2 separate regions of the Homo sapiens genome follow, and region 2 is reported to be linked to region 1. The links are microRNA targets in miRTarBase. Many come from high-throughput screens and were not tested one by one. Region 1 holds a microRNA gene; the other region holds the end of a gene's coding sequence.

The links. The annotated mature microRNA hsa-miR-4722-3p reads ACCUGCCAGCACCUCCCUGCAG and lies in region 1 at 3,154-3,175, shown strand. An mRNA with a match to its seed (bases 2 to 7 or 8) in the 3' UTR can be bound and repressed. Matches are read on the target gene's strand: a 7mer-m8 pairs with bases 2 to 8, a 7mer-A1 pairs with bases 2 to 7 and ends in A, and an 8mer does both.
Region 2: miRTarBase lists FANCM as a target of hsa-miR-4722-3p. The part of its 3' UTR that is shown has no 7-base or 8-base seed match.

The regions. Positions count from the first base shown.
Region 1 is chr16:88,711,172-88,719,452 of GRCh38, reverse strand. MIR4722 (microRNA 4722) reads left to right here and starts at 3,116; the gene lies at 3,116-3,175. CTU2 (cytosolic thiouridylase subunit 2) reads right to left here. Exons shown (of 15, transcript NM_001012759.3): 5 at 7,758-7,818; 6 at 7,070-7,179; 7 at 6,548-6,831; 8 at 6,006-6,141; 9 at 5,675-5,806; 10 at 5,226-5,317; 11 at 4,967-5,070; 12 at 4,716-4,866; 13 at 4,527-4,593; 14 at 4,347-4,405; 15 at 4,057-4,271. The coding sequence ends at 4,202. PIEZO1 (piezo type mechanosensitive ion channel component 1 (Er blood group)) reads left to right here. Exons shown (of 51, transcript NM_001142864.4): 45 at 2,242-2,430; 46 at 2,555-2,647; 47 at 2,722-2,894; 48 at 2,970-3,092; 49 at 3,176-3,255; 50 at 3,334-3,520; 51 at 3,599-4,115. The coding sequence ends at 3,848.
Region 2 is chr14:45,199,203-45,214,237 of GRCh38, reverse strand. It overlaps FANCM (FA complementation group M), which reads right to left. Exons shown (of 23, transcript NM_020937.4): 23 at 13,348-14,368. The coding sequence ends at 14,230. MIS18BP1 (MIS18 binding protein 1) reads left to right here. Exons shown (of 17, transcript NM_018353.5): 14 at 3,710-3,858; 15 at 8,068-8,155; 16 at 9,785-9,839; 17 at 10,026-11,048. The coding sequence ends at 10,129. Among named protein-coding and RNA genes, the nearest start is that of MIS18BP1, 46 kb to the left of the region's middle.

The DNA of each region.
Region 1 (8,281 bases):
GGGGACATGAGGCGAGCCCACCCACTAGCTGATCACGAGGCCAGTGATCTTGGCAGCTGCGAGTGAGTGCTGGGCGCAGAAGTGGGCAGCGGAGTTGGTCCTGTTCCAGGCAGGCTGGCAGCAGAGCAGGGCCTGGTGCAGGGAGGACCGGACAGCCACTGTTTGCTGCATTCTTGTTTAATGGCCTTTCTCAGAGAGAATTCGTGCGTCAGACCACTCCCCCACGTAAAAAGTACAACTCAGGGGTTTCTAGTGGATTCACAGTTGAGCATCTGCCTTCTCACCACTTCAAAAAGAAACCCCGGGCCGGGCACAGCGGCTCACCCCTATCATCCCAGCACTGTAAGAGACCCAGGAGGGAGGTACTGCTCAAGGCCAGGAGTTCAAGATCTGCACGGCCACAAGCGAGACCCTGCCTCAGCAAATGTAAAAATAAAACAATTAGCTGGCAATGGCAGCTCATGCCTATGGTCCCAGCACTTTGGGAGGCCAAAGGAGGAGGATCAGTTGAGGCCAGGAGTTTTAAGACCAGCCTGGGCAACATAGTGAGTGAGACTCTCTCTACAAAAAAATAAACGTTAGCTGGGTGTGATGGTGCACACTTGTGCTCCCAGCTACTCTGGAGGCTGAGGTGGGAGGATGGCTTGAGGCCAGGAGTACAGGGCTGCATTAAGCCTGATCACACCACTGCACTCCAGCTTGGGCAACAGAGTGAGACCCTGTCTCTAAAAAAGTAAAAAGAAGAAACCCAGTGCCCATTGGCTGTCACTCGGTTTCCCCTCCCCTGGCCCCTAGTAACCCCTTGTCTAGGTCCTGGTTCTATGAGATTTGCCTACAGTGGATATTTCATGAAAACAGGCTCAGACAGCGTTTGTCCTTTTGTAATCAGCTTTCCTTGCTCAGCATGGTGTCTCTGAGGTCCACCCACGTGGCAGTATGGCCTTCCTGTTTATGGGCAAATGATATTCTGTGGCATGGATGGACCACAACATGCTCATCTGTTGATGGGCTGTTGCCCGTGATGCTGCCAGGCACGCCGGTGTACACGTCTGTGTGCCCGTGCCCCTGGTCCTGTGGCTGCACGCCAGGGCCGGAAGTGCTGGTGGTGGTTTCCATCATGAGGAGCTGCTGGTTTTCCATAGCAGCTCCACCATCTAAGGTTCCCACCACCAACACGAGGTTGCGGTTTCTCCACATCCTCAACAACCTGTTACTATGTCTTTTTTGTTCTGGCCATGCTGCTGAACGGGTGGCTTGCTGTGGGCTCTTCTCAGTTCCCTGTTGACCGACGCTGAGCGTCTTTTCATGTGCTTGGCCATTTGTGTATCTTCTCTGGGGAAATGTCTATTCAAATCCTTTCTCCATAGTTTAGTTGGGCTTTTGAGATAGGATCTCAGGCTGAAGTGCAGTGGCATGACCTTCACTCACTGTAGCCTCTGCCTCCCAGGTTCAAGCGATTCTCCCACCTCAGCCTCCCGAGTAGCTGGGACTACAGGTGTGCACCACCAGGCCTGGCTAGTCTTTTGTATTTTTGGCCAGGTTCGTCTCAAACTCCTGACCTCAAAGTGCTGGGATGACAAGTGTGAGCCGCCACACCCAGCAGTTGGGTTGTTTTTTATTAGAGTTTTTTCTGTTTTTCTGCAGATACATTGGCTAGAAATGACTGAATTGGAAGAATTCTCTGTATTCTCTGGTTGCTAGAACCTTATCAATTAAAATTTGCAGAAAATTTCTCCAATTCTATGGACTGTCTCTTAAATTTTCTTGGTGTCTTTGGAAGCACAAAGTATTTATTTTGGTAATATCTGGTTTACTTTGTTTCCTTCGCCAAATCCAGGTTCATGAAGATTTGCCCGTTTTCTTCTAAAAGTTCTATAGTTTTAGCTCTGAAGTTTCGCTCTTTGATCCACTTTGAGGTAAATTTTGGCACATGGTATGAGGCAGGAGTTGCGTTTCATTCTCCTGCCTGGGGCGGTGCCTGCACCGTGTTGAAAAAGGTTGTCCGTTCCCACTGAACGGTCACAGCTCCCTTGTCTAAGATCAACGACCCCTGAACATGAGGGTTCCAACTGGACTCTTAGTTCTACTCCACTGGCCTGTGTCTGCCCACCATTACTACCGCTGTGCCATACTGAGGTCAGGCTGGGGCTTTTCTGGGCTGCTGGGTGAGCTGGAGAATGCGGTTGTGTGACCCGCAGGAAGGGCAGAGCTGAGCGTATGACCTGTGTCGTTCCCCTCCAGAAATACCCGCAGCCCAAAGGGCAGAAGAAGAAGAAGATCGTCAAGTACGGCATGGGTGGCCTCATCATCCTCTTCCTCATCGCCATCATCTGGTTCCCACTGCTCTTCATGTCGCTGGTGCGCTCCGTGGTTGGGGTTGTCAACCAGCCCATCGATGTCACCGTCACCCTGAAGCTGGGCGGCTATGAGGTGAGCATGTGTGGGTCCGCCTGTCCATTCCCATCCCCTGGGGGTTCTGGCCAAGGTGGTGCACCACCCCCAGCCGCTCCTCCACGCTCATCTTCGTGGCCCCGTGTCCCCGTGCCTGCCCCAGCCGCTGTTCACCATGAGCGCCCAGCAGCCGTCCATCATCCCCTTCACGGCCCAGGCCTATGAGGAGCTGTCCCGGCAGTTTGACCCCCAGCCGGTAAGTGGCCTCTGCCCTGTGAAAGCTGGTGTGGGGAGGCGGCTGCAGTCACTGAGGGTGTCACTTGTACCCAGCTGGCCATGCAGTTCATCAGCCAGTACAGCCCTGAGGACATCGTCACGGCGCAGATTGAGGGCAGCTCCGGGGCGCTGTGGCGCATCAGTCCCCCCAGCCGTGCCCAGATGAAGCGGGAGCTCTACAACGGCACGGCCGACATCACCCTGCGCTTCACCTGGAACTTCCAGAGGTTCGTCCTGGACTTGGGGCAGTGCCTGGGTGGGTGGACCCACTACAGTGGGTCACGCTGTGTTCCCACCCCCAGGGACCTGGCGAAGGGAGGCACTGTGGAGTATGCCAACGAGAAGCACATGCTGGCCCTGGCCCCCAACAGCACTGCACGGCGGCAGCTGGCCAGCCTGCTCGAGGGCACCTCGGACCAGTCTGTGTGAGTGAAGGGCCCGGGTGGTGGGCAGGAGGGCTGTGCCAGGTTGGCTGGGCCAGGCCTGACCTGCCAGCACCTCCCTGCAGGGTCATCCCTAATCTCTTCCCCAAGTACATCCGTGCCCCCAACGGGCCCGAAGCCAACCCTGTGAAGCAGCTGCAGCCCAGTGAGTATGGGCGTGGGGGTTGGGGGAGGCTAGAGAGGGGTGACCTGCGGCCTCAACGATCTTCTCCCTCCATCCCAGATGAGGAGGCCGACTACCTCGGCGTGCGTATCCAGCTGCGGAGGGAGCAGGGTGCGGGGGCCACCGGCTTCCTCGAATGGTGGGTCATCGAGCTGCAGGAGTGCCGGACCGACTGCAACCTGCTGCCCATGGTCATTTTCAGTGACAAGGTCAGCCCACCGAGCCTCGGCTTCCTGGCTGGCTACGGGTGAGTGAGTGGCTGGGGGGGCACCCCGCAGCTCGGGGGGCTCCGGGCGGCCCCAGGACTCACCAGCTTCCCCCGCAGCATCATGGGGCTGTACGTGTCCATCGTGCTGGTCATCGGCAAGTTCGTGCGCGGATTCTTCAGCGAGATCTCGCACTCCATTATGTTCGAGGAGCTGCCGTGCGTGGACCGCATCCTCAAGCTCTGCCAGGACATCTTCCTGGTGCGGGAGACTCGGGAGCTGGAGCTGGAGGAGGAGTTGTACGCCAAGCTCATCTTCCTCTACCGCTCACCGGAGACCATGATCAAGTGGACTCGTGAGAAGGAGTAGGAGCTGCTGCTGGCGCCCGAGAGGGAAGGAGCCGGCCTGCTGGGCAGCGTGGCCACAAGGGGCGGCACTCCTCAGGCCGGGGGAGCCACTGCCCCGTCCAAGGCCGCCAGCTGTGATGCATCCTCCCGGCCTGCCTGAGCCCTGATGCTGCTGTCAGAGAAGGACACTGCGTCCCCACGGCCTGCGTGGCGCTGCCGTCCCCCACGTGTACTGTAGAGTTTTTTTTTTAATTAAAAAATGTTTTATTTATACAAATGGACAATCAGAGGCCAGTCCCCCGTCCTTGCCTTCCGGCTCCAGTGTGGTGTACCAGGTGGCCACTGCCTGCTGTCCCGGCAAGCACGTCCTCACGCTCAGCTCTGGCCCGCCTCGTCGTCACTGTCCTCAATCAGACAGTCCCGGATCTCCTGCAAGCCCCAGGCCCTAGAGAGAAAGCTGCAGTGGGCACCAGCCCCGAGGCCCCTTACCCACGCGCCACGGCAGTGTGGGCCCCAGTACCTCTGTGTGCGGAGCTGGGCCTCAGCCAGGATGTACGGCGGCAGGGGGTCCAGTGAGGGCTGCAACAGAGGCCGGTGTCGAGGGGCCAAGAAACCTGCCAGCACCCCCTCAAGCCACCCACGAGGTGACGGCCTTCCCGCGTCCCCAAGCCCGGCCCAGGACAGGTGGGCACGTACTCACCAAGTCCTTCATGTTCACGCGGCAGCTGTAGCACAGCTGCTCCTCAATGCAGGCTTGGGGGTCCTCCCTGCGGGAGCAGAGCTGGCTGTGTGCCCACCTTGGCACCTCAATGCCGTGCAGTGTGGGGTAAGGACAGGTCCCCCTCCCGCCCCATGCAGCTGGCCATGGGTGGCAGGGACAGGGACTCACCTCCTGCAGGCCCCCTGGCCACAGCGCTGGGCCCAGCCCACCCCTGGAGAACAGCAGGGCCCCGGGGGTGTCCGGGTCTCAGTCAGGGGGATGGGTGACTGCATCTGGGAGAGACGCGAGGAGGTCTGAGCCCCAAAAGCCGTGGCACTGTCTGCAAGCAGAGAGGGGGTGACGGAGCCTGGGGCTGCTGAGCCCCCACACCCACTCCCTGGCTCCCTCCCCGCATCACCCCAAGAGCATGAAACACAGACCAGCGGCGTCGACGTCCAGGGCACACATGCAGAGGAGGCAGCGGGGGCCGGAGTCGCCAGCAGCAGGGCCATCCCGGGGGCCCTTCACCAGCTTCTCACTTGTCCTGTGGCCGGATTGTGGGAGGAGCAGGTGAATCACACGGGCTGGGGCTCCACCCTAAGCCCTGGCCTGAGCACGAGTGGTGAGCTCACCACCCGCACACACCCGCGCACAGCACACACCCGCGCACCCCCCGCACACACCCACACACACCCACACCTGTACACAGTGCTGACAGTGGAGGGGAACTGGGTCTGCAGCCTGAGGATGAAGGCCTCCATCAGCCGGTGGATGCTGGCCTTTTCAGGGGCCTAGGGACAATCAGATTGGAGGCTATGGGAAAGCCCAGAGGCCAGCCCCAGGCTGGGGCAGAGTCCCCAGGACAGGTGCCGTGGGTTCCACGCTGCTGGCCCACATGGGTCTGGCTTTGCTGCGACTGCTCAAGGCAGCCAGAGAACCCGCTTCAGCAGTGCACCCACTGTGGGGTCCTCCTGTCACCCCCACACCCTCACGGCACAGGGTGGGCTCAGAGGATGCAGCACTGCTGGGGGCCACAGCAGGAGTCACTGAAGGTGTGCTGGTGACCTGAGCCTGTGAGAGGCTGCCCAGCCCACATGGCCCACCCCGGTGTCAATGGTGAGAGAGGTTGCCCAGCCCACAAGGCCCACCTTGGTGTCGACGGCTGGTGTGAAGACAGAAGGAACGGAGAACAGGCGGTTGTAGAAAGCGACCTCCTTCAGGGTGTGGTCCCGCATGGGCCGCACCACCACCACGTCCCCGTGCCGCTCATCCGAGAAGCCCTGCGGGAGGCAGGGGCTGTGTGGTCCAGGTCAAGGCCCGAATGTGCTTGCCCCTCCTCCCCTGCCAGGTAGGGGAGGTCACAGACCCCACCACCATCCGAGGCCGCAGGACTGATACGCGAGAGGCTACTCTCCAGTAAAGGTGGCCGAAGGGGTGAAGGTGAGGATGGGCCTCCTGAACACCCAGGCCCCTGCCTACCGTATCCCAGGCCAGGAAGGCCCCTCGACCCAGCGCCAGGTTGGTCATGAGCTTGATAGCCAAGCGTGTGCAGCTGTCCCCAGTCATGACCTTGGAGTAGCCGTGGGCTCGGGCCATGTGGAGGATCAGGTGGGTCCTAAAGCACAGAGCGTCTCAGGGGCCTGGGGGGTGCAGGACCCGGGGAAGGGGGGCTCTCGGGTATGAGTGGGGGTCAGGGCCCGGGGAAGGGGGGCTCTCAGGGGTATGAGTGGGGGTCAGGGCCCGGGGAAGGGGGGCTCTCAGGTATGAGTGGGGGTCAGGGCCCGGGGAAGGGGGGCTCTCAGGGGCATGAGTGGGGGTCAGGGCCCGGGGAAGGGGGCTCTCGGGCATGAGTGGGGGTCAGGGCCCGGGGAAGGGGGGCTCTCAGGGGCATGAGTGGGGGTCAGGGCCCGGGGAAGGGGGGCTCTCAGGGGCATGAGTGGGGGTCAGGGCCCGGGGAAGGGGGCTCTCAGGGGCATGAGTGGGGGTCAGGGCCCGGGGAAGGGGGGCTCTCGGGGCCTCACCGCAGGGTCTGCAGAAGCTCCTCCTTGGCAGTCAGTGTCCTCACTGAGCAGAACAGTTGGGAAAGAGCCTCAGTCTGGGCAGGGGCAGGCGGTCTTGCCAGGTTCTGGGGGTCCAGCGGGGGCTGGGGTGGCTGTTCCTCCCCTTGAGTCGGGCCAGGACCACCCCCGGCCCCCAGCACATGCTGCTGCTGGAGGAAGCTGTCCACGGCCGCCTTGTAGGCCCCCTCGGATCCCACCAGCTCCTGGGCAGAGCACCAAAGCACCGACGGTGGCAGGCTGAACACCTTCCGGGATGAGGGAGACGCCAGTGAGGCCCGGGACACGGGCAGGTGCCCCCCACAGACAGCCCCACCTTCCGGGATGCGGGAGACGGCAGTGAGGCTGGGGCACGGGCAGGTGCCTCCCACCCCCCACCGACAGCCCCGCCTTCTGGGATGAGGGAGAGGCCAGTGAGGCTGGGACACGGGCAGGTGCCCCCCAGGGGTCACCTCCGGGACCCCTTTCCAGGGACAGCCCTCCCACCTCCTCTAAGGCCACCACATGCCATGGGAACCCAGTTGCTTGCAGAATGGGCTTCACTTCGGCCAGGGTCTTTGATCTCTCCTCTAGGCTCTGGCCACAGGCTGCTCCCTCTGAAAAACCCAGGCAGAAAGAGTCAGGGCTCAGAGAGGAGCCAGGCAGGGCAGGCTGCAGGGCCACCTCCACCTGGGAAAACCCTTCGAGGCCTCGCTCCGCAGGGCGGTGCTTCCTGGCGGAGCTGTGGGGTGTCGGCCATTTTCCTTTGGGCAGGGGTTTCTCTCTTGCGGCTGACCTCAGCGCTACAGTCAACACCCCAGGAGTTCGTTCTGCAGGAGCAAGGGTCGGGGAGTCGGCCCCTGGGCCCCCGCTCACCATCAGCACTTAACTTGCCCTTCTTTGTCCCCAGACCCCGTGATGGGGGCTGGGCAGCCGCCACTCCTGCTCCCACCCCCGACTTTCTAAGGATGTTCTTAGATTCCAGGAACAGTGATGCCACCTAACGATGGATACATCTGCTGCCTCCTTCAGGGAGATGTCCCCACCAGGCCCTCAGTGCAGGGGCAGCACCAGTAGCTCAACACATCCTACCAGAGGGAGGACCGGCACCAGAGGGAGGGTCCACACCAGAGGGAGGATCCGCAGGGCTTACCCCAAGTGGCCAGGGACTAGGAGGAGCAATGGCCCCACATACCGTCAACAAAGATGACTCCTGCCACAAAGCGCAGTCTTTTGGCAGAATCTTGGCTCAGGCCCTAGAGGGAGAAGCAGCAGGGACTCAGCCCCCAGCCATAAGCCACAGGACACTTTTCCAGCTCAGAACATTCTTCATCTGGATTTAATGCCATCTTGGAAGGTGAAGTGGTCTTCCCCTGCCATTGCGTTTATTGGACAAAGCCATTCAGACTCAGGTGCCGGGCAGGCCCAGTAGGCGAGGCCGCACGCCCGACTTATTTTAAAGGGTAGCCTGGGGGTCTTCATCCCCCTGGTAAAACATGCCCCTCACCAGCTGGTCCTGGATGTCCCAACAACGCCCCAGGAGAGGGGGCTGGGTTACGGGGCCACTGTGCCACCATCCCACACGCTTCTGACCACTAAGGAAGCACTTGCTCTCACAAGCAGAAACCAACAGCCTGCAAGAGGCAGGGGCGCCGCTGGGCACAGGAAGGGCAGCACCAGCGTTACACAGAGGGCTGGGCCAGTTCCCTCACAACACCC
Region 2 (15,035 bases), not on the chromosome of region 1:
CTATTGCCCAGGGACGAGCAGGAGACAGATACCTTCCTCTTATCTCAACTGCAAAGAGGACTTCCTATTTTACTAATTCTCCTCAAAACAGACCCTTTATGGGTGTGGGGCTGGGGGACAGTAAGGTCTTTCCCTTCCCACGAGGCCATATCTCAGGCTATCACATGGGGAGAAACCTTGGACAATACCTGGTTTTCCTAGGCAGAGGTCCCTGTGGCCTTCTGCAGTGTATTGTGTCCCTGGGTACTTGAGATTAGAGAATGGTGATGACTTTTAACAAGCATACTGCCTTCAAGCACTTTTTTAGCAAAGCACATTCTGCATAGCCCTAAATCCATTAAACCTTGAGTCAACACAGCACATGTCTCTGTGAGCACAGGATTGGGGCTAAGGTTACAGATTAACAGCATCTCAAGGCAGAAGAATTTTTTAGTACAGAACAAAATGAAATCTCTTATGTCTACTTCTCTCTGCATAGACACAGTAACAGTCTGATCTCTCTTTCTTTTCCCCACAATGGTTAACACTGCTTGGGTTCCTACTAACGGCTAAGCATAATAGTAAGTGAATTAGAGTTTTGTTTTGTTCTGTTGATACGAAGGGTCAGATTTGTTTGTATATTGTCTATGGCTACTTTCATGCTACGGTGCAGAGTTGAGTAGTTAGGACAGAGACTGGACCACAAAACCTAAAATATTCCCTATCTGATTATTTACAGAAAACATTTGCTGACCTCTGGTCTACATAACCTTCAGAAATAGGTGTTATTATCTCTGTTTTACACAAGAGAAATTAAGTCTTTTAAAGGCTAAGGCTCTGTCCTTGTCCTTGTTCCTTGACCTTAAAATTTCTAACAGACATAGCCTAAACCTGTGCAACCTGCAGACCCCCATCATTCTTGTTTATCTTCTGTCAGGGAGAGCCTCAGCACCTTAGACCTATACAGTGTAGGATGAATCCCTCCTGTTACTGGCAGCAAATCCATACGGGTCTGCAGAAACCACAATTCTTACCTCCTCAGAAGAAACAATTCTGGCCGGGTGTGCTGGCTTATGCCTGTAGTCCCAGCACTTTGGGAGGCCGAGGTAGGAGGATCCCTTGAGCCTAGGAGCTTAAGACCAGCCTGGGCAATATAGGGAGACTCCGTCTCCATTTTTTGTTAAATAATACTTATAAAAATTTTTTAAAAAGAGAATTTGACCAAGGAAACATAAGGCAGAAGGAGAAACTGAGGCAAGTTTTAGTGCAGGAATGAAAGTTTATTAAAACACTTTAAAGCAGGAAGCAAAGGAAAGAAAGTACTCTCAGAAGAGGGCCAAGCAGGTGACTTGAAGCATGGTTTAACTTTGTGACTTGGGGTTTTATATGTTGGCATGCTTCTGGGGGTCTTGTGTTCCTTCTCCCCGGATTCTAACCTTGGGGCGGGCTGTCTGCATGCCCAGTGGCGTGCTAGCACTTGGGAGGGGAGCAAGTTACAGTGTGTTTACTGGATTTATACACAGGCTCACTTGAGGCTTTCTCCCTTACCAGTCGGATGTCCTTAGGAGGTCATATACCAGTTAAACTCCTCCATTTTTCCTCTTAATGCACATGCTTGAGCCCACTTGCCCAGTTTCTGAGATCTTATGAGGAAGCTGCTGATCACCAATTTTAGGTGTTTCTGTTTATTGAGAGATTGCTTTTCCCTGGTGCTGGCTGCGATTAAGTATTATTTTAGAGACACAGTTAACAACCACCTGACCATCACAGGATGGTCGCCTAACAACATTCCTGGTGGGGGGTGGGGAGGCCCTCTCATTCCTTGCTTATCCCTGACTAGTTAACCTGCTGTAACATTCCCACTTCTGCAAGTCACCAGTCAAGGTTAGCTATTTCCAGCTGGAGGAAGCTAACGGTGTTTATGGCCCAGGGGAGTTTAGGCTGTAGATGGCTTGTTTCCAATTTAGTCAGTGGGATGGAGCTGGGAGGAATAGAAAAGATGGAGGAAGAGAGAGAGAGATTAGGGCCCATACACACATTAAGGTTACACACCTACACTGCAAACAAATGGTGCACTGCCTCCAAACAAATCCCCAGTTAAGAGGGCTGGGTAGAGTTCCAAACTCCTTGCCTCAGTTTCAAACGGCCCTCCCCAGGGGACAGTCCAATGTGAGCAAAGCCCTGAGGGTGCCACAAATACAAATGCAAAAAAATGGCCAAATGGTGACACCAACAGCTAAGTCTAAACAGAGCAGAGCCCCAGCAACACCCTAAAAGAGGCAGAGGGAGGCTGGGTGCACATCAGCAGCTCACCTGGTTCCAACATTTGTCGACTTCTTCAAAATGTCACATTCTCTTTGTATCAGTGAAGCTTTGGAAGCAGCAGATGCTGTGACAGAAATAGAAAAGGAGGTTCTGCAAGACAAAGGCACCTTGGCTATTGCTGGAAGCTCCCCTAATGTTCTTACTACAGGGTCAGCTAGCCATGAGCAGCTGGCACTCACAGGTGGCTCCATGGCCCTATCCAACAGAAGATCAGATAGGTGTGTCTGGAGCCTCCTGTGAATACACAGGGCTCCCTGTATGGGCCACCAAAAATTGTAACCAGCAATAGGGGTCCAACTACTTGCCGCTTGTAAAAAGAAGCCAATATAACAAGAGCAAGGTGTGATAGAGTTTTATTATCTGTGCCAGCAAAGGGAAGTGTGGGTGAAATTCCAGAAATTCCAGTCTTCAATTTGTGGAGTGAACATAGGAGTTTTTAAAGAGAGAATGATTTGGAATGCAGGAGAGGAGGGGGTTAGGAGGTGTTAGGTGGCTCAATCTGCTCCAACAGCTTATCTTGAAATATTATTCCATTTGGTGAAGGGGCCAGCACCATCCTGGGCTCAACCAGGTTACAAATTAATTGTAGTAAATCTTGCAGTAAATTTCTAGATGGGAGTGAGTTTTGGCCTTGACTGGGGAGAGAATTCTGGAGGTATCCAGTTTATGCCAGGATCCGGCCCCTGAAGCTTCTAAGGAAATACATGACCAGATAAATGAGCATGGTGTGCACTTAAAAAGCGTCTAGGTAAAAACATGTGCATAAGGCATGGGAGCATAGAATGGGTAAAGAAACGGAGGTTCACATTTTGAGGCTGTATTTCAAGATGAATGGAAACACATGTAGTTTATCTCAAAGTTATATCTTAAAATTGGGGAGAAAGAAAGAAAAAAGTTTTAAAACATGGTTTGAAGCCACGCTACTCGGTTACAGGCTGAATAAAGAGGGTGACAAATCCAGTTTCTCAGAAACATTTAATAGAGACTTTTGAGCAGAAGCCATCTCTTGGGTGGCCTCAAGATGGTGGATTTGGGCACTGTTATCCCCCCAGACCCAGGGTTTATATACCATAGGGAATTTGCCTAAGGGCTGTATTTATGGTAAGTATGTGTTTACGATAACACCAAGGTTGTTTTGACCTAAGGACAAGATTTCCAGTAAGTATATGGAGGTAGAAATCTTAGAGGCATTTCCAGATCCAGGTTTAATCAGAAGTCAGCATGGTGAATTAGCATCTAAAATGGAGTTCCTCTAGCCTCTACTCCTCTACGTACTACTGTTTTTAATTATCTAACTTGGAAAGTTACAAGAAGAACCAACTTATCAGTCCTCCAAAACTATTTTGTGATAATGAGAAAATACCTTTTATGGGGTGCCTGCTGATAATAAATACTTGTTTTCTAGTTGCCAAGTTTCCAGGACAGTGAAGATGATGATGATATTCTGCCAAATATGGACAAAAATCCAACAACTCCATCATCAGTTATCTTTCCATTGGTAAAAACTCCTCAATGTCAGCATGTCAGTCCTGGCATGCTAGGTTCTATAAATAGGTAAATATTCATGCATATGATATGTTAATTCTCTGCATCAGAGTAGTGAGGAACATTTAAACATTTCATGAGGACCATAGATGCCAGTAATGGGAAGAGGCATTATTTAAAAAATCAAGAATGTGTAGTTTCTAGAAGTTAAGGATGGACAAGTTCATCAAATCGGGGTGCTATTCAATAAACAGCATTGTGATATAACCCACATTTACTTCTGGATCAATTCGAAATGGATCAAGGTTTTACTTGTAAAAAACTTTAAAAAAAAAAAACTAAAGAAACCTTGGAGAATTATTTTATAATACCAGATTAGTGATGGTCTTTCTAACTATACTATAAAACCTACAAGCCATTAATGAAAAGATGAATAAAGTCAACTGTGTAAAAATGTTTAACAAATTTTACCTGGTACCAACCACTACAAACAAAAGACAACCTGAGAAAAGAATATATGCAACTTGTCACAGGCAAAAGGCTAATTTCCGTAATATATACAGCATTCCTACAAACTAACAAGGAATGCATTGTTAATTTTTGTGCATTGCTAGTGAGAAGGTAAAGTAGTGCGATCTTTGCAGCAACAATTTGTAAGTATCAAAATTATAAATGCACATGCCCTTTGACTTAGGAATTTTACTTATAGAATTGTGAATGTACAGCTTATTCATTGTAGCATTGTTTAAATGGCAGTACCTCAAAAATCTATCAGTAGGGACTAATTAAATGAACTCTGGTCCATTATATAGTCATAGAAATTAATGAAGAGCCAGGCACAGTGGCTGAAGCCTGTAATCCCAGCACTTTGGGAGGATCACTTGAGCCCAGGAGTTCAAGACCAGCATGGGCAACATAGGAAGACCCCATTTCTACAAAAAAAACCCAAAAATGTTAGCAGGATGCAGTGGGGCAAGCCTGTGGCCCTAGCTACTAGGGAGGCTGATGTAGAAGGATTGCTTGAGTCCCAGAGGTGTAGGCTGCAGTGAGCTGTGATTGCAACAATTGCACTCCATCCTGGGCAACAGAGTGAGATCCTGTCTCAAAAAAAAAAGAAATTAATGAAGATATTTTTTATTGCTATTATGATAAAATGCCTAAGATATATTAAATGAAACAAAGGTAGATGCAGTGAATAATATACTACTGTTTGTGTAAATAGAAGCTATATGTATGTATGCATATATGTATATACTTGTGTGTGTGTGTGTGTGTATAATTGCTTTTATTAGATTAAGTCTTTATAAAAGGATGCATAAGAAACCAAAACATTGGTGATCCTTAGGGAGAACTAAGGTAGCTGGAGGAAGGAGAGGGGGGCTTTTGAATTTTGAACCATGTGAATACAAGAACAATTTGAAACATATAAATAAATAAAATTAAGAAAAAAGTAGGGGTGACTAACAATAAAATGTCACCAAAAAAAGATGGAAAATAGTAAGAATGAGGCCTGAAAATAGGCTATTCCATTTGGCAAGTAAGAGGCCATTGCTGATCTTAGAGCAATTTCCACAGAATGAGAGGCAGAAGCAAGATAATAGTGACTGAGAAAAAAACTATTCAGTACTCTCAGGAAGCTTGCTAAATTGCTAAAATTTTAATTTGCACTTATTGGATAAAAATATAATTTTCCTAGGCATCTAAAAATTATTTTTAGTATTTAGTGCAGGGGAAAGCATACTGAGAATACTATTTTGGACAAATTTTTTGATAAGCACTTTGACCAGTTCATCAAAAGCCTTAAAATATTCATCCGTGGCCGGGCGCGGTAGCTCACACCTGTAATCCCAGCACTTTGGGAGGCTGAGGCCGACGGATCACAAGGTCAGAAGTTCGAGACCAGTCTGGCCAACATAGTGAAACCCCATCTCTACTAAAAATACAAAAAATTAGCCGGATGTGGTGGTGTGTGTCTGTAATCCTAGCTACTCAGAAGGCTGAGGCAGGAGAATCACCTGAACCCGGGAGGCAGAGGTTGCAGTGAGCCGAGATCACGCCATTGCACTCCAGCCTGGGTGACAGTGCGAGACTCCGTCTCCAAAAAAAAAAAAAAAAAAACAACTTCATCCTTTTGGCCGTTGAATTTTATTAGACACTTTAAGGAAATATGAGATTTGGAACACAGATGTTCATCATAAAACATAATACTGAAAGTTTGAGAATGACCAAAACATCCAAAAATAAGGAAAGTTATAAATTAAGATTTATCCATATAATGGAATATGAAACAAATCATGTCTTCAAGAATTTAATGACAGAAAAATGTCCAGTGGATAGTAGTTTTCAAAAGCTAGGAAAACTACATTCAGCATGATCCCAATTTTATGTAACAAATTCGTAAGGAAGGAAATTTCTTAACTTACACATCACCAGCCATTCTTTCTAGGTTGTAGAATGACACCAGTGTGGGTTGTGGGTTTTTGTTTTTTGTTTTGGGGGATATTTTCTGTCCATTTATGTCACTTTTACAATTAAAGAAACACGATAGATTCACTTATGTTATGAATCTATATTGTCTGAAACTTTTTTCTTAAAAAAATGATTTTCTTAGGCTTCTTCACTCTCTCTGACTTTACTAGCTCTAGTAATTGACGTACTTTTCATAACAGTTTTAAGTAATCAAACAGTTATATCACTTCAGAAGTGAAAAACTCTTTGTCTTCAAAGACATCTCTTTGATAATAGACTTACCAGTTGCTGATCCTGAACAACTGGCTAGGCCTGTTCATTTGTTTTTTGTTTGTTTGTGAGATGGAGTTGCTCAGGTTGGAGAGCAGTGGCACAATCTCGGCTCACTACCGCCTCCATCTACCAGGTTCAAGCAATTCTCATGCCTCAGCCTCCCAAGTAGCAGGGATTACAGGCGCATGCCACCGTGCCTGGCTAATTTTTGTATTTTTAGCAGAGATGGGGTTTCACCATGTTGGCCAGGCTGGTCTTGAACTCCTGACTTCAGGTAATCCGCCAGCCTCAGCCTCCCAAAGTGCTGGGATCACACCTGTTCATTTGTTAAGCAATTTGCTAAAAACTGACGAGGTTTATTCATTGCTATACAGCAGTGTTTGATTCAGATAAATATCTTAATAGAGTCACATTTCTTCATGTCATGCCTTTAAGGTTGTTCCCAAATAGTCATAAAGAACAGAGGATACTCAGGTATGTAAGATCTTAGAGCCAAGAGAGAGTATGGAAATGGATGTTCAGCTGGTATTTACTGTCATAAGTGGGATTAGGAATTGTGGGTTTAGGGAATTAAAAACAACCAACAATTCTACTTGGCTTTTAATCTCTTCAGTTATGAGTGAAGCATATTTGCTTGTAAGGGAAGAGATAAGGTAAAGGAAATGAAATAAAGAAAAAAAATTTGGTGGTTGGTATGGGGAATTCAAGAAAGATAAAATTTTGTAGAAATAAAAGGCTTGATGAGCTGGATTAGAAACCCAGCACAGTTGGAAAAATTGACAGTTTTCAATCACCAGGCATATCTTTAAAGTGAATAAACTGAGATTCAATTAGGACAGGGAAGGAAGTGAACAGGAGAGATAATGGTATAGCAAAAGGGAGTCCAAGGAGAAGAAGTCTCAGTGGGAGTTTTGGAAAACCAAGAGAGGCAGCAAGATACCGGAAAGAGCGTAGACGGTACAATGAACGGTAAGCAAAGCATAATTTCCCAAAATAGTCTTGATCAGTATTTCCTGTAAAATGTTTGATTTAAGCATTTTGTCCATCTCCATAGGCACATTTTATTGTCCTCTTTAAAATACAGAATGTACTTTTTAAAGATGGAAATACGTTTGAGGTCAGGCGTGGTGGCTCACGACTGTCATCCCAACACTTTGGGAGGCCCAGGAGGGCAGATTGCTTGATGAGCTCAGTAGTTTGAAACCAGCCTGGGCAATGTGGTGAAACCCTGTCTCTTAAGAAAAATACAAAGATTAGCCAGGCATGATGGCACGTGCCTGTAGTCCAAGCTACTTGGGAGGCTGAGTTGGGAGGATCACTTGAGCCCAGGAGGTTGAGGCTGCAGTGAGCCATTATCATGTTACTGCACTCCAGCCTGGGCGACAGAGTGAGACCCTGTTTCAAAAAAAGAAATACATTTGAAATTAATTTAGGCAATTGTTGTTCAACCTGTGGTTAAAAGTATGACAGTTAACTTAAAATTATTAGGTTGACTTAAAAATATTGTTGACTTAAAATTATTTCGTATTCAAACAGGAATGACTGTGATAAATATGTTTTTCGTATGCAAAAATATCATAAAAGTAATGGTGGTATTGTCTGGGGCAACATCAAGAAAAAATTAGTAAGTATTTTTCTTTATCCAATACATATCTATGAAACAACTTTAATATGTGATAAACTGTGGTAGTTGTAAGTCATGTAACAGTCCCTGTCCCTGAGGTGATTATAATGTAACAAGTTACAATAATGAAGCCATGAATGAGGTAAGCACATAAGTACTGTAGGATTACAGATGGCATCACATTGACTGAAACATTGGAGCAAGGGGAAAATGGCTAAAAACTTTGATTTTTGGGAAATGAAGGGTGGGAAAAATATACACAGAGGTCTGGGAAGGATATTTCAGGCAAAACACAAAAACACAAAACACAAAAACAATCCTGTTCAAGGATTGAAGAATAATTCAGACTGAGTCACAATTCTCATAAAGTAAGAAATTTCATCAAATTCTATGTAGCTTTAAAATGGCTTCAGGTGTTTTTCAGATTTAGCTACTTAATTTTATTTTTTTACTTTTTATTTTTTTACATTCTAACATTTAAAATCCAACTACAGAAAAATTTTTAACTGAAAGATGCCTTAATAGAATGATCTATATCCCTTAGAGAAAAGATTAGGACAGTCCTTTATCCCCTTGAATTACTTTTTAAATTTTTAATTTTCTGATTTTAATTGCAATAACTGATTATCATATATAAGTACTAGGATTCTGGAAAAAGTATTTCATCTCAAATTTCCTCTAAGTAGCTAATCTTCGAGAATGGTAACTTATGGGAACCCCCTTGATTCCCTTGCTTTATGACACTGAGCAAGTTACTTGAGCTTTCTAATACCATTTTATTCATGTGTGGTATGACAATGGGGATCATGATTATATTGATTTATGTTACCAAATGATTTTGAGGTCTAAATGATATAATGCAGTGTTTTACCTCATCTCAGAAAAAAATACATTTATATCACAGTCTGTGAGCATGAATTTGTATCTCAAAAATTTCTTAAAACAGTACTTACTCTAAGGGCTACTATATTTTCTGTTCTGTTACTTTTTATTTTTAAAAGATTTTTAAGGATTGCCAGCCATGGCCAATAGTTTGATAAGCATTGTAATGTGTGTGAGCATGTACTTCAAACTTGCCATTTACTTTACCATTTTAGCCAAGAATTTCAAGTACAGAGAATTAAAATTCTGCTGGTATAAAACATTGTACTGTTATAATAACAGACTGTAGGTAAAAGTAATACAGTAATTAGTATTCTGTATAGTAATTACTATACTGTAATAGTACAGTATAGTATTGTAATTATAATTACTATATATAATCATGATAAATTGTGTTTATATTTTAAGTTTACCAAACCAGTATATTCATTACTTAATTACTTAGCACATTTTGGCAACTTTTGGAGGCCCATAGACTATCCTTTAACTGCTATAGCATTAGTTTATAATAATTTCTTAGAGGAGTGTTTGCCAGCACTGGGAAACAACATTGAGTAAGTCATGGTTCTTGCCCTGGATAAACCCAAAAGAGAATTATGCATTTCACAGATAATTATAATGTGATTAAATGTTGTTATAGGCATATGTTCAAAGTAATCTGGGGATAAGCATGCTTAATTTTGTCTAGATTTGAGGTAGACTTCACCAGGAGGTACCATTTAGCTATTAATAGTAACTCTTTTATAGGTTGAAACTGATTTCTCAACTCCAACACCAAGAAGGAAAACCCCATTTAACACAGGTAATACACTTACAGCTTTCTTTTGTGGCTCAGTTCTATTATAAGGTAGGTTCTTTATTTAAATGGTATTAAAATTAATTGCTCTCAAGTGGACAGACTTAGCATTTTATTCCTTATAGTTGTTTTCAGTTTTATTGAAAGTACTTTTAGAAATTTATTATCTTTTTATTAAACTTCTCTTTACAGACTTAGGAGAAAACTCTGGTATTGGAAAACTTTTCACTAATGCTGTGGAATCTTTAGATGAAGAAGAGAAAGATTATTATTTTTCGAACTCTGATTCTGCATAGTAAAATGAGAAAATATGATTCCTGGGATTTTTACCATAAAGCAGACAGTGTTTGTATTTTCAACTGGAGTACATGTATTTTCTTTGTAAAGTAGCTTCCTATGAAAATGTGGACTTTTTTGAAGGTTTCATATGTTTGTGTTCAAAGTAAAATATCCTCATTGCTGCAGCTTACTAAAAATGTAAAGAAAATTGTTTTTGCTCGTGTAGATATCTGTAAATTTGTTTTTGCATATTAAAATATATATAGATAATTTTTTAATAAGCATCCAAGTCTGTTTACTTTAAGAAAACCATTTCCCAAACAGATTTTTTTTTATTTCAAGAAAATTTTGCTACCATTTAAGTAAGAGAAGGTGAGAAGGATGACAGAGGTTGTATTGGTAGCTATTGAATTCATGAAAACTTTTAAGTTAGCATTTGTTAGCAGTTATTATCCAAGCCAGAGTAGGATTTGTTACCAGTTGTTATCCAAACCTAATGTTTAAATTACACATTGTTGAAATTAAATTACACATTGTTGACATGCTTCTCTCCTGATTGTTTTTATTTTAAACTTGTGATAGGCATATCTATGAAACCTTTGTAAATTTAGTTTATTGCTTTACCATTATTTTACTAGGTAAAATTAGAGAACAGATTTTGTTCTCTAATTTTTAAGCCTTATTTACATATGCAGAAACAGCTTAAATATTTTGACTAGATTAGACAAACAGTTAATAGATCCACCATTAGGAATCAATATATTATGTCATAATAAACATCCTTTTTCTTTCACTGAAATTTCTTTTAGAAATAAACTTATTTTTGCTTGTTATGTTTTGAAACTTGACATAGGATATTTTCCCTCTGGCTACACATTCACCTACCCTTGTTCTCTATTTAGATTATTCAAATAAAGTTAGTTTGCTTTTATAGTATTTGTTTCTTGTTTTTTGTTTGTTACTAATTACTGGATGATAGAAATAAAAACAAATCATGACTGGTCCTGTTTAAGTTTCCTCAAAAAAAAAAAAAATGATTAATAACATTTTCTTGTTTCTTAAGTGTTTTAGTCAGAGCAGGCATGGTGTCATGTATCTGTAGTCTCAACTACCTGGGAGGCTGAGGAAGGAGGATAGCTTGAGCCCAGGAGTTCAAGGCTGAACTGTGCTATGATCATGCCTGCAACTGGCCACTGCACCCTAGCCTGGGTAACAGAGACTCCTTTTAAAATAAATAAATAAATAAAATAAAATAGTAATAATCAGCAGTTATATAATTATAGGACTTACGGAAACACTGTAAAAAGAACAGTGCAATTGGACTAAGATAATTCTTTCTTTAAACTACCATGATTATTTCTGCCATAAAGACCCTTGGTGGATATAGAATGGATCAAAAGAAAGGGTTATTTTGGAGTGGCCAAAAAAAATGCCGTTGCAGAACTTGAGTTGCCAATATTTGATCTAATGCTATACTGCTTGAAGTTAATGGATAGTGTTTTAGGAGTTAAGAAAGTGGTTAAATCCCTTAACAAAAAGTAAAAAGGTAATTGAAATGGCATAAACTTGAGTTTGACCCCTACTGCCCATATATCCGTATCAGAACTTCAGCGCCTTCCCTATACTAAGGTATCTCACCGGCCAGGTACCTGGCTTGTCCTATTTCTATCAGGTCATAAGATGAACTAATGATAAGGTTTAAGGTAAGTAACCCCCAAAGGAAACTTAAAAGTGGAAAAGAAAAAAGACCTTAAGGACTTAAATAATAAGATGGATAATGAATGGTTAATGGCTACCAATGAGGATATAGGAGGAGGCTATTGCAAGCCTAAATATGGATAGAGCTCTCCATACAGCAAGCATAAATAAATGAAATCCTCTAGGTTATGTCTGTAACACCATGTTAATTTATGTACTTTTTTTTGTCTGACGGGTGCACACACAGCTGAGTCTGAGCAGGTGGTGGTATCTCTGTGTGAGGTTGTTGAGGGACTGCATGATTCTGGCATGCAGCTGGGGCAAAGCACCACCAGATGTCCCTACCCACAGGCCCTGCTGACAATGTGGCAGGAGCAAGATACATGAAGATGTAGCACAGTGGAACCACAAAGAGGCTCCTTTCCTCCTGTCACAGCTTAGCATTGTGCTCACTACTAAAGGAGAAATACTCAAAAAGTCCAGTTATAATAAACTGATAACTGCACACTAGGCAATAACTTAGTGTTTCCTCTCTGTGGTTTTGACAGAATTATTGAGCAGCATACATAAGTCAGCTGCTTTCATACAAATTGAGAGTTGATACTATCTCAAAGGAGCTAAACAATTAGAGTAACTTTTTTGTCCCCTTTTATCAACACCATAGAGTGAAAGAGAATGATACCTAGTTTGTGAGTTCTGCTTCTAGATTTGCCAGTCTAAACTTGAATAAGTCACTTGTTTCTGGGCATCACTTTTATCATTTGGTAAGAAAGGAAAGAGAAGTGATTTGAATTACATGAGCTCTGAAGTCCCCGCCAGATTTAAGGTGAGGAGAGCTCTGCAGTGAGGCTGGTTCAACTACCCAACAATGTAATAGGGGTAAAAATGAGGCCGAGAATAAAGGACTCACATAATTCAAGGCTGCTTTAGTACTAGACTGACTAGAAGAAAGATGTCATATATATTGCAGATACAAGAAAAGCCTTCTTTTTTGGTTTGTGTTTGTTTTTGTTTGTTTTTGAGATAGAGTCTGGCTCTATCGCCCAGGCTGGAGTGCAGTGGCACGATCTCAGCTCACTGGAAGCTCCGCCTCCCGGGTTCACGCCATGCTCCTGCCTCAGCCTCCTGAGTAGCTGGGACTACAGGTGTCTGCCACCATGCCCGGCTAATTTTTTTATATTTTTAGTAGAGACGGGATGGGGTTTCACCGTGTTAGCCAGGATGTTCTTGATCTCCTGACTTCGTGATCCGCCCCCCTCGGCCTCCCCAAGTGCTGGGATTACAGGCGTGAGCCACCGCGCCCGGCCCCAAGCAGAGCCTTCTTAATGCCATCACAGACAACAGAATGGATCAAAACGGTAAATATAATAGGGTCAACATAATGGGCCTGCATTCAGTAATTTATATTAAAAAGAAACTTTCTAAGTCCAAACCAATATACCATTTTGAATATATTTCAGCAACAAAAAAGAGTAATGTAGCTGGGAGTTTGTATTAGTCCATTCTCACGCTGCTATGAAGAAATAACCCGACTGGGTAATTTATAAGGAAAAGATGTTTAATTGACTCACAGTCCTGCATGGCTGGGGAGGCCTCGGGAACTTACAATCATGGTGGAGGGGAAGCAAACGTTTCCTTTTCCACATGGCAGTAGGCAAGAGAACTGCAGAGTGAACAGAGGAAAAGCTTATAAAACCATCAGATCCTCTGAGAACTATCACTAGAACAGCATGGGGGAACCGCCCCCATGAGCTAATCACGTTCCAGGAGGTCCCTCCCCAATATATTGGGATTATAATTCAGATTACAAGTCAAGATGAGATTTTGGTTGGGGACACAGCCAAACCATATCAGAGTTCATATTAATAGATTTGACAGTACTTAACTGGGACACACCTTTGGTCAGATAAACATTCAGTTAAGTTTTCTACTTTCCTAGTTACTGGGTCATTTATCTCACAACCCACCCATCACCCACACCTTACCAAGTACATGTATTTAGAATCAGTACACTTAAAAGTATACTATCTACACATAGGGAAAATCGACAAGTTGGCTGTAGTCATAGACATGTCAACTTTACTATTTATCACAACAGTACAACTTTAATTTTGGGAAACATTCCAAAGTATATCTCTAGCTTAGCTTTTACTTTCTTAAACTATCCTTAGTAACACTTTTAATAAACCTTGTTTTATTTAATAAGAAAAATTAGTTTTATAATCTAGTCAAAATGATCACTGAACATCAGATTTTTCTTTTTTAATAATTTCTATAATCTATAAATAAAAATGTATACAATATAAAATATTTAAATAAAATATTCTCTTATTTACAAATAAACATAAAACAGCAATGATTATTGAAGTGCATTTAATATTGTGAGAGGTCTTTGAAAACCCCATCTTGAGCAGCTTGATTATATATCAGATTTCAGTCTATCTTGGTTAAGATCATTTGGTAACATTTGTATGTCAAATACATAGTGAATATATCTATAGATCTCCTCAGCCTTCTGATGAGTTACTTGTGCATACATGGAGATTTCTTGAAGTGAGCTGAAAAATAAATGAGACAAAATCATTACACTAGGACTTTTGGCTTTTATAAAATTTAATATTACCTAAAGAACACCAAACACAGTAGCCTTTAAGGAAATCATCTCAAGCATTATCCGCCCAGCTGATATGTCTTGAACATTAGTTTGGATAAAAGAGCTACTTGTTTCCTTTCCTTAAAATTATCTAGAATAACAATTTCAACATCTTCAATGAACTGAATGTTTTTGTGTTGCCCAAAATTCATATGTTGAAGCCGTAATCCCAATGTGATGGTATTTGGAAGTGGCAACTTTGAGAATTAGTTGATAAAGGTGGATATCCTTGTGCACTTTTAAGAAGAGGTCAAAGAGCTAGCTAGCTCTATTTCTGCCATGTGAGGATACAATGAGAAGGCAGTAGTCTGTGACTCAGTAGAAAGCTCTCTCCAGAACCCAGCCATGATCTCAGACTTCCAGTATCCAGAACTGGCAGAAATAAATTTGTGTTGTTTGTGTATTTTATCATTGCAGCATGAGCTAAGACAGTATCTGATGTAGGCCTTTAATTAAAATGAACTACATTCTAAAATCTCCCTCTTCAAGCAATATAATGATCACAACTAGTAAAATACTCATTTTTCTTGTTACAGAACTGAACAGCCCAGAAATGTTAGATTGCAAGGTCA